Homo sapiens: one gene and its partner. The protein of the gene in region 2 interacts with the protein of the main gene of each other region in a pairwise test. Each region holds a gene or a part of one and is shown on either strand. Other genes may lie near its edges.

What was found. Proteins that work in one complex are often made in the same cells at the same time.
Region 1: the proteins of UBXN11 (region 2) and ZGPAT interact in binary tests that used the Homo sapiens proteins (3 or more experiments, as listed by UniProt).

What each region holds. Positions count from the first base shown.
Region 1 is NC_000020.11:63,713,731-63,718,400, forward strand, and holds part of ZGPAT (zinc finger CCCH-type with G patch domain-containing protein), read left to right. Parts: intron 1-4,670. UniProt on the Homo sapiens protein: Transcription repressor that specifically binds the 5'-GGAG[GA]A[GA]A-3' consensus sequence. Represses transcription by recruiting the chromatin multiprotein complex NuRD to target promoters.
Region 2 is NC_000001.11:26,289,159-26,293,828, reverse strand, and holds part of UBXN11 (UBX domain-containing protein 11), read left to right. Parts: intron 1-4,670. UniProt on the Homo sapiens protein: May be involved in the reorganization of actin cytoskeleton mediated by RND1, RND2 and RND3. Promotes RHOA activation mediated by GNA12 and GNA13.

The sequences.
Region 1 (4,670 bases), on a different chromosome or scaffold from region 2:
CATGGTGGCAGGTGCCTGTAATCCCATCTACTCAGGAGGCTGAGGCAAGAGAATTGCTTGAACCTGGGAGGCGGAGGTTGCAGTGAGCTGAGATCGCGCCATTGCACTCCAGCTTGGGGAACAAGAGTGAGACTTCATCTCAAAAAAAAAAAAAAAGAAATACAGTGGATTTTTTTATGTTAATCCTGTATTGATTGCTGAATTGGTTTATTAGTGCTAATAGGATTTTTTATGCACTATTTAGGATTTTCGATATATACAATCATATATATTCAATATATACAATTAATATATATGTGAATAGAGATAATTGTAGTCTTTGTTTCTAGTTTGCATGGCATTTATTTCTTTTTCTTGCTTAACTGCCTTAGCTAGAACTTCAAGTACAATGTTGAATAAAAGTGACTAGAGCGGGCCGGGGGTGGTGGCTCACACCTGTGTTCCCAGCACTTTGGGAGGTGGAAGTGGGCAGATCACTTGAGATCAGCAGTTTGAGACCAGCCTGGCCAACACGGCGAAACCCCATCTCTACTAAAAATACAAAAATTAGCTGGGTGAGGTGATGTGCACCTGTAGTCCCAGCTACTTGAGAGGGTGAGACATGAGAATTGCTTGAACCTGGGGGGCGGAGGTTGCAGTGAGCCAAGATCATGCCACTCCACTCCAGCCTGGACGACAGAGCAAGAACCCTGTCTTTAAAAAAAAAAAAAAAAAAAGTGGCTAGAACAAACATCTTTATCTTGTTCCTGATCTTAGGTGGAAAACTTTTTTGTTCCTGATATTAGGTGGAAAACTTTTAGTCTTTCACTGTTGAATATGATGTTACTTGTAGGTTTTCTGTAGATTCCCTTTATCGAGTTGAGGAAATTCTCTTATATTCATAGTGTGTTGAGTGTTTTTTATCATGAAAGGGTGTTGATTTTTTTTTTAAAGATAGGGTCTTGTTCTGTCACCCAGGCTGGAGGGCAGTGGCATGATCATGGCTCACTGCAACCTCGAATTCCTGGGCTCAGGGGATCCTCCTACTTCATCCTCCTGAGTAGGTGAGACTACAGGCATGAGCCACCATGCCCAGCTAATTTTTTAATTTTTCTGTAGAGGTAGGGTCCTGCTTTGCTGCCCAGGCTGGTCTTAAACTCCAGGGCTCAAGCAATCCTGCCTCAGCCTCCCAAAGTGCTGAGATTACAGGGGTGAGTCACTGCACTGCACCCAGCTGTGTGGGATTTTTCAAATGCTTTTTTCCTTTAGATGATCATGTGTGGTTTTTTTCCTTTCATTTTGTTAATGTGGTATATTGATTTTCGTATGTTGAACCATCCTTGAATTCCTCAGATAAAGCACGCATATTCATGGCGTATTATCTCTTTATTATTATTATTTTTGTAGAGATGAGATTTCACTCTGTTGCCCAAGCTGGTCTCAAACTCCTGGGCTAAAGTGATCCTCCTGCCTCAGCCTCCGAAAGCGCTGGGATTATAGGCATGAGCCACTTGGCCCTATCTTTTTTCTTTTTCTTTTTTTTTTTTTTTGAGACAGAGTCTCACTCTGTCGCCGGGCTGGAGTGAGTGGCGCGATCTCGGCTCACTGCAACCTCCATCTCCCGGGTTCAAGCAATTCTCCTGCCTCAGCCTCCTGAGTAGCTGGGACTACAGGTGCCCGCCACTATGCCCAGCTAATTTTTTGTGTTTTTAGTTGAGACGGTGTTTTGCCATGTTGGACAGGCTGGTCTTGCACTCCTGACCTCGTGATTCACCCACCTTGGCCTCCCGAAGTGCTGGGATTACAGGCGTGAGCCACCGCAGCGAGCCTTATCTTTTTAACAGTTAAAAGTTTAAGGCCTTATCATGTAATAACATTGCTGGATTTGATTTGCTGCTGTTTTGTTGAGAATATTTGCATCTGTATTGATAAGGGATATTGGTCTGTAGTTTTCTTTTCTTGGCATGTCTTTGTATAGCTTTGATGCCAGCATAATATTGGCCTCATAGAATGAGTTAGGAAGTATTCTTTATATTATGGGAAGAGGTAAAAAGGGATTGGTGTTAATTCTTCTTCAAATGTTTGATAGAATTCAACAGTGAAGTGATATATACAATCATATATAGAGAGAGAGAGAGAGAGAGAGAGATGGACTTTTCTTTTGTTGGAAGTTTATTGACTATTGATTCAATTTCCTTATTGAAATTGACTTTTCTTTTTGGAAGCTAAAACGTATAACTGTAGTGAAAGTTTCTGAACTTTTCTTTCATTGGAAGTTTTTTGACTACTGATTCTTTATTTGTTATAGGTCTATTCAGATTTTCTGTTTCTTCTTGAGTCAGTTTGGTCTCGCTCTGTCGCCCAGGCTGGAGTGCAGTGGTGCCATCTTGGCTCACTGCAACTTCTACCTCCCGAGTTCAAGTGATTCTCCCACCTCAGCCTCCCCAGTATCTCGGACTACAGGCGCACGCCAGCATACCTGGCTAATTTTTGTATTTTTAGTAGGAACAGCATTTCACCATGTTGGCCAGGCTGGTCTCGAACTCCTGACCTCAGGTGATCCACCCGCCTCGGCCTCACAAAGTGCTGGGACTACAGACATAAGCCACCGCGTCCAGCCTTGAGTCAGTTTAGATAGTTTGCATGCATGTTTCTAGGAATTTGTCCATTTTGTTTATGTTATCTAATCTGTTACCATACAATTGTTCATAGTATCCTTTTATAGCCCTAGTTATTTCTGTAAGATCAGTAGTAATAGCTCCACTTTCTCTCTTGGTTTTAGCAATTTGAGTCATCTCTTTTCTTCCTCTTTTTTTTTTTTTGAGATGGAGTCTCACTGTGTCACCCAGGCTGGAGTGCAGTGGCATGATCTTGGCTCACTGCAACCCCTGCCTCCCAGGTTCAAGCAATTCTGCCTTAGCCTCCTGAGTAGCTGGGATTACAGGTGTGAGCCACCACACCCAGCTAGTTTTGTTTTGTTTTTTTGTTTTTGAGACGGAGTCTGTTTCTGTCTCCCAGGCTGGAGTGCAGTGGTGCAATCTCACTCATTGCAACCTCCGACTCCCAGATTCCAGCAATTCTCCTGCCTCAGCCTCCTGAGTAGCTGGAACTATAGGCGTGCACCACCACGCCTGGCTGATTTTTATATTTTTAGTAGAGATGGGATTTCACCATGTTGGCCAGGCTGGTCTTGGACTCCCTACCTGAGGTGATCCGCCCACCTTGGCCTCCCAAAGTGCTGGGATTATAGGCATGAGCCACCATGCCCAGCCAGTTTTTGTATTTTTAGTAGAGATGGGGTTTCTCCCTGTCGGCCAGGCTGGTCTTGAAATCCTGACCTCAGGTTATCCACCAGCCTTGGCCTCCCAAAGTGCTAGGATTACAGGCATGAGCCACCACGCATGGCCTGTCTTTTCTTCTTGGTCATTTTCGCTAAAGGTTTGTCAATTTTGTTGATCTTTTTTGTTGCTGATCTCTATTGTTTTCCCATTCTGTTTCATTTATTTCCATTTTAACCTTTGTTTCCTTTTTTCTGCTGGTTTGGGTTTAATTTGCTCTTTTTTTCCCCTAATTTTTCAAGGTATACAGTTAAGTTATTGATTTGAGATCTCTTTTTTCTTTTCTTTTTTTTTTTTTTTTTTTTTTTTTGGTTGCTGTTGAGATGGAGTCTCCCTCTGTCACCCAGACTGGAGTGCAGTGGCATGATCTCAGCTCACTGCAGCCTCCGCCGCCCAGGCGATTCTCCTGCCTCAGCCTCCTGAGTAGACGTTTCCCGGCCAAGGTGTTTCTTTTTGAATGTAAGCATTTACAGCTACAGATTTCCCTCTAAACACTGCTTTCACTGCATTCCATAAGATTGTTTTTTGTTGTTGTTTTGTTGTTTGAGACACAGTCTCACTCTGTTGCCGTTTGGAGAGCAGCGATGCGATCATAGCTCTGTAGCCTTGAGCTCCTGGACTCAATCAGTCCTCCTGCCTCAGCCTCCCAAGTAGCTGGGACTACAGGTGTACACCACTGCACCTAACTAATTTCTTTTATAAGTTTTTGCAGAGGCCAGGCACAGTGGCTCACACCTGTAATCCCAGCACTTTGGGAGGCCAAGGTGGGTGGATCACCTAAGGTCAGGAGTTCGAGACCAGCCTGGCCGACAGGGAGAAACCCCATCTCTACTAAAAATACAAAAATTAGCTGGGCGTGGTGGCAGGTGCCTGTAATCCCAGCTACTCAGGAGGCTGAGGCAGGAGAATCGCTTGAACCTGGGAGGCAGAGGTTGCAGTGAGCCAGGATCACACCATTGCACTCCAGCCTGGGTAACAAAAGCAAAACTCCATCTCAAGAAAAGAAAAAAAAAAGTTTTTGCAGAGACAGGGTATCACTTTGTTGCCCAGGCTGGTCTCAAACTCCTGACTTGAAGGAGTCCTACTGCCTCGGCCTCCCAAAGTGCTGAGATTATGGGCAAGAGCCACCGCACCCTGCCACTTGGCTGTTTTGTTCTGTTGTATTTCCATTTTCATTGATCTCAAGACATCCTAATCTCCCTTTTGTTTTTTTGTTCGACTTACTCGTTATTCAAGAGTGTCTTTATTTCTGCATATTTGTAAATTTTCCAAAAAAGTTTTTCTTTCTTTCTTTTTTTTTTGAGAAAGGGTCTTGCTCTGTCGCCCAGGCTGGAGAATGGTGGTGCACAATCT
Region 2 (4,670 bases):
CCCAGGTTTGGCCTCCCTCTCCAGGTTTGCTTATGGCCCTTGGAATCCACCTGGTTCTGTGGGCCCCTACCATGTCTTTTTTTTTTTTTTTTTTTTTTTTTTTTGAGACGGAGTCTTGCTCTGTCACCCAGGCTGGAGTGCAGTGGCACGATTTGGCTCATTGCAACCTCTGCCTCCCAGGTTCAAGCAATTCTCCTGCCTCAGCCTCCTGAGTAGCTAGGATTACAAGTGTGTGCCAACACACCCAGCTAATTTTTGTATTTTTAGTAAAGACGGGGTTTTACCATGTTGGCCAGGCTGGTCTTGAACTCCTGACCTCGTGATCTGCCCACCTTGGCCTCCCAAAGTGCTGGGATTACAGGTGTGAGCCACCACGCCTGGCCTACCATGTCTTATTTTTAACTTCTAATATCTAGAGGGATTCCTCCCACAGTCCCCTCCTATAGACCCACAGATTTGGGTCCATAAAACTGGCCATTTCTGAAAACCAGGCCCATTCTCTTCAAAGAATGGAGATTGTCACCCAAAAGATGCTTCTCCAGGCTCTAGAGTCAGGCACACCTGGGCCCTCAACTCGACTCTACCTCCTATCCCAAGTGTGACTTGGGCAGATGACCTCTATTCACTTCATCAACAAAACAGGAGTGTTCTTCCCTGGGAGTTACAAGGAGCAAATGAGTTAAACGCAGAGCGCCTAGCTCTGGCCTTGCAGCCATTGTTGTTTCCAAAGTCTGAGGGCAGGGGTCCCACGGGAATAGGAGCACAGCTTCCAAGGGGCCCATTTGGAAGATGACGACACCTTCTTGGTTTCCTGCTAGGTAAAAACCCAGATTCCAAACATGAGAATCCTGCCTCCTGTTTAGGCCTGGGCTCTGGCTGGATCCCCCCAGATCTCAGGGTCTAACGCCCTCACTGCTTGTTCTCAAAACATCACTTCCCATTTTTGTGCCATTTGCAGCTTTCTTTTTTTTTTTGAGATGGAGTCTTGCTCTTGTTGCCCAGGCTAGAGTGCAATGGCACAATCTCGGCTCACTGCAACCTCTGCCTCCTGGGTTCAAGCGATTCTCCTGCCTCAGCCTCCTGAGTAGCTGGGATTACAGGCGCCCACCACCATGCCCGGCTGATTTTTGTATTTTTAGTAGAGACAGCGTTTCGCCATGTTGGTCAGGCTGGTCTCAAACTCCTAACCTCGTGATCTTCCCGCCTCGGCATCCCAAAGTGCTGGGATTACAGGTGTGAGCCACCGCGCCCAGCCATTTGCAGCTTTCAAAGCATTTTCTTTTTTCTTTTCTTTATTTTTCTTTTTATTTTTTGAGGCAGGGTCTCACTTTTGCCTGGGCTGAGTGCAGTGGCACAGTCATGGCTCACTGCAGCCTCAACCTCCTGGGCTGAAGTGATCCTCCCACCTCAGCTGTCTGAGTAGCTGGGACTGCAGGCACGTGCCACCACACCCAGCTGATTTTCTTTATTTTTTGTAGAGACGAGGTCTCGCTACGTTGCCAAGGCTGGTCTTGAACTCCTGGATGCCAGTGATCCTGCTGCCTCAGCCTCCCAAAGTGCTGGGATTACAGTTGTGAGCCACTGTGCCCTGCCAGCATCTTCATAGCCTTGACAGGGGCCAGGAGTTACTCCATTTCACAGATGGGTAAAGGGAGGCACTTAAGGAGTCTGTGGACTCATTATTGAGGGAAGAGGGGCAAGACTTAAGGCTGACAGCCCACTGTAAGGCAGTTGGTCACTGAGGCAGAAGATGAGATGATGCCCAGCTTGAGGGTGGGGATGGTGAGAAGGGATGGGCAGAGAGATTTAAGTAGAATCCGTGGCCTTGGTGTCTTTACATGAGGGAGAGGACCAGAGGAGTCAGGGATAACCCGAGGGAGCACAGCTGCGGGAAAGATGCTGAGTACACTTGGGACACAGCAAAGCTGGGGGCTGTGCAGTCCCTATGATGCTAGGAAGGGGAGCGTGTCCCTGCTGCCCAGGGCACTGTAGGCCCAGGCATGCCAACTCCAAAGCTCTAACTGAACCCAGGGTGGGTGTCGTGGGGAGAGTTCTCAAGGGACCCCTGGCATGAGTGAGAGGTGAGGCCCTATTGGGTGGCTGCAGGTGCTCTGAGAATGTCTATCCTGGATCTAGGCCAGAGGCCCACAAGTGCCGCACCCTGGGCCCTGCTGTGGCGGGCTGGGCTCAGGCTTCAGGTAGGCCTGCCATCTTGTTGCAGGGCAGCCTTCCTCCTGGCCAGGGGGGACCTCCTTGCTCCTTGCCAGGTGGCTGGTTTCTGGACCTGGCTCTGTGGATTCCTACTCTGCCCTGTTTGGTTGTTTGTGCTCTGAGTGCCTCAAGTCAAAGTAACTTGTGAAAAACCCTGCCCTCCATCTTGGAGGCCCTGGCCATATCTGTGGTCCCTCCGTGCGTTCTCTTCCTTCTTTTGTTCTTTGATTTTTTCAGCATGGGCGGGGGGCCTTGATTCGGCTCTTTCTGCCAGATGAATGACGTTTTTCGTCGCTAGCAGCTTCTGTTCCTGGGACATCTCTCCGGCGTCCCCGTTCCTCTCTCCCCAGGTGCCACCCTGCTCCGCCCAGGGGCCTCAGGCTCACAGCCTGGCCCCCGCTGGCCTGCCTGACACTCGGCTGATTGCTCTGCTCTCCCTCTGTTGGAGAGGCTCCCACAGGCGCTGGGGTGGAGGCCTGTGGAGGGTGAGCCAGGGCCGTCTGTGCCGAGCCAGTGGGGTGATCAAACTTCCTGGAGCCTGGGACTCCTAGGGAGGAGGGCCGGTGGGGCCATGAAGGGGCTTGGCCTCAGGCTGGATCGCTCACTCTCCCCCTCTCTCTGCCAGCGTCACAGAGCATGCTGTGCCAGGTGCTTCAGGGTCTGTGGAGACATGAAAGGGACAGTCCTGCTCTGGTCACACGCCACTGGGGCCAGGTGTTGGGCCTCGGGGCTGAGAGCTCTGGTCAGCTCTGAAGTTCTCCCTTCCCCCCCACCCTCTGCATCTCTGAGCTCCTCACTCCTCACTACTTCCCTGTTCCCCTGAGAATCCTCACCCTCTCATCCCCCTCTGAAATCCCCACTTCCCCTACCCAAGTCAGTCCCTGCCTCCCTCCATGGCTCCACCTCTCCCTGCCAGCACCCCACACGCCTCCCTCCTTCCTCTCAAGCCCCACACTCCTGAGTCTGGGTTGGAGGCCCCCTGACTCCGCAGCCTGCGTGACTTGCCCCTGGGCTTGCCCTTCAATCCCAGAGCCACCTGGCTTGACCCCTCCCCACCTGCACTTCTGCCTCCAGCCTTTGCTCCTGCTCTGTCCCCACAGAGCGCCTTGCCCGCTTCCCTCCCCTCTGAAGCTCAGGGCAAATCCAACCTCCGCCAGCAAACTCTGACTGCCCTGTGTGGGCTGTGCTGCTCTGTGGGGAGGGCTCTGCTTGAGGGAAGGGGCTAAAAGCTCTGGCTGAGGCAGGGTTCAGGTCGGGTCAGACCCCAGATCAGCAGATCGCTGACCCCCTCTGAGTTCATTTCCTCCTCAGTCGTGCTGACGGGCTCCTAGGGCCACTGAATGGATGTGGTAATAAACTGTGACAGCCACTGTCACCTAGCTGTTGTCATGCATGTCCCAGTGCTTGGCACATGGGCAAGGGTGTGTGTAGCTGCATGTGATTGGCTGTGATGCCCGTGTGCCCAGGCTTGGATGATCAGAGCACATTGGAACAGTCATCTGCACATGATGAGGTGGGGACAGGGTGGTGCGTAGCTCAATGGCAGGGGCCAGAGAGAGCTGCAGGTGGGACCCGGCAGGCCTGAGTTCAGATCCTGCCAGTCCACAGGCTGGTTGAGTGTTCTGGCGGGGACCAGACCTGCAGGGCCTCCTTTCCTGCACTGGCTCCTCTGAAGAGCAGAGTGACTGCAGTAAAGTCCCCAGAGCGGGGCCTGGCTTGCAGGTGTGTGGTAATAGTGGTTCCACTTCCTGTTGCAGCCGTCTTTGCCTGAGGGTCAAGGGCAGGCACATGGAGGGCGGCACCGCGTGAGCTGCCGGGGTGCCCTGGGCACTTGTGCAGTGAGGGGCTGCCACCTCTCCACTGAGCATGGTAGGGTCTGGCCCTCTTCTGGGCTCCACAGCCCCCACAGTGATACTTACACATGCCATTGTCGCCATTTGCCGCCCCGTCTTCTTCACTTGAGTCTGAGCCTGAGGATGGCAGGACCCTGGGCGTGGGCATCGCCATGATGGGCAGGGCCTAGCAGAGCACGGGTGCTCAGACATTTCTGGAAAGCAGGATCCAACCCTGCTTTTAGTGGCCCAGCCACTCTGGGCCAGGCCCAGGGCTCAATGCTCCTGAGCTCAAGGGGTGCCCAGCATGGCTGGAAGGCAAACAAGCAAGCAGAAAGCAGCGGCCTGTGACGAGGGCCAAGGGAGTAGGTGCAAGGGCTCCAGGCATGCAGCCTCAAGGCAGGTTGGGGGTGGCTCCTAGCAAGGCTTCTTGGAGGAGGTAGGGGTGAGTGGGCACAGCTTGAGCCCAGCGATGAGTAGGCGGTGCTAGGGACAACAACAGCCACCATCTGCCAAACGCTTCCTCCAAGCCTCACAGCAGCCCTGTGAAGTGTGGAAACTTTTATCGTCCTCATTGTACAGAAGAGGAAGCTGAGGCCCATAGAGGCCCAGGGTTACAGAGCTCGG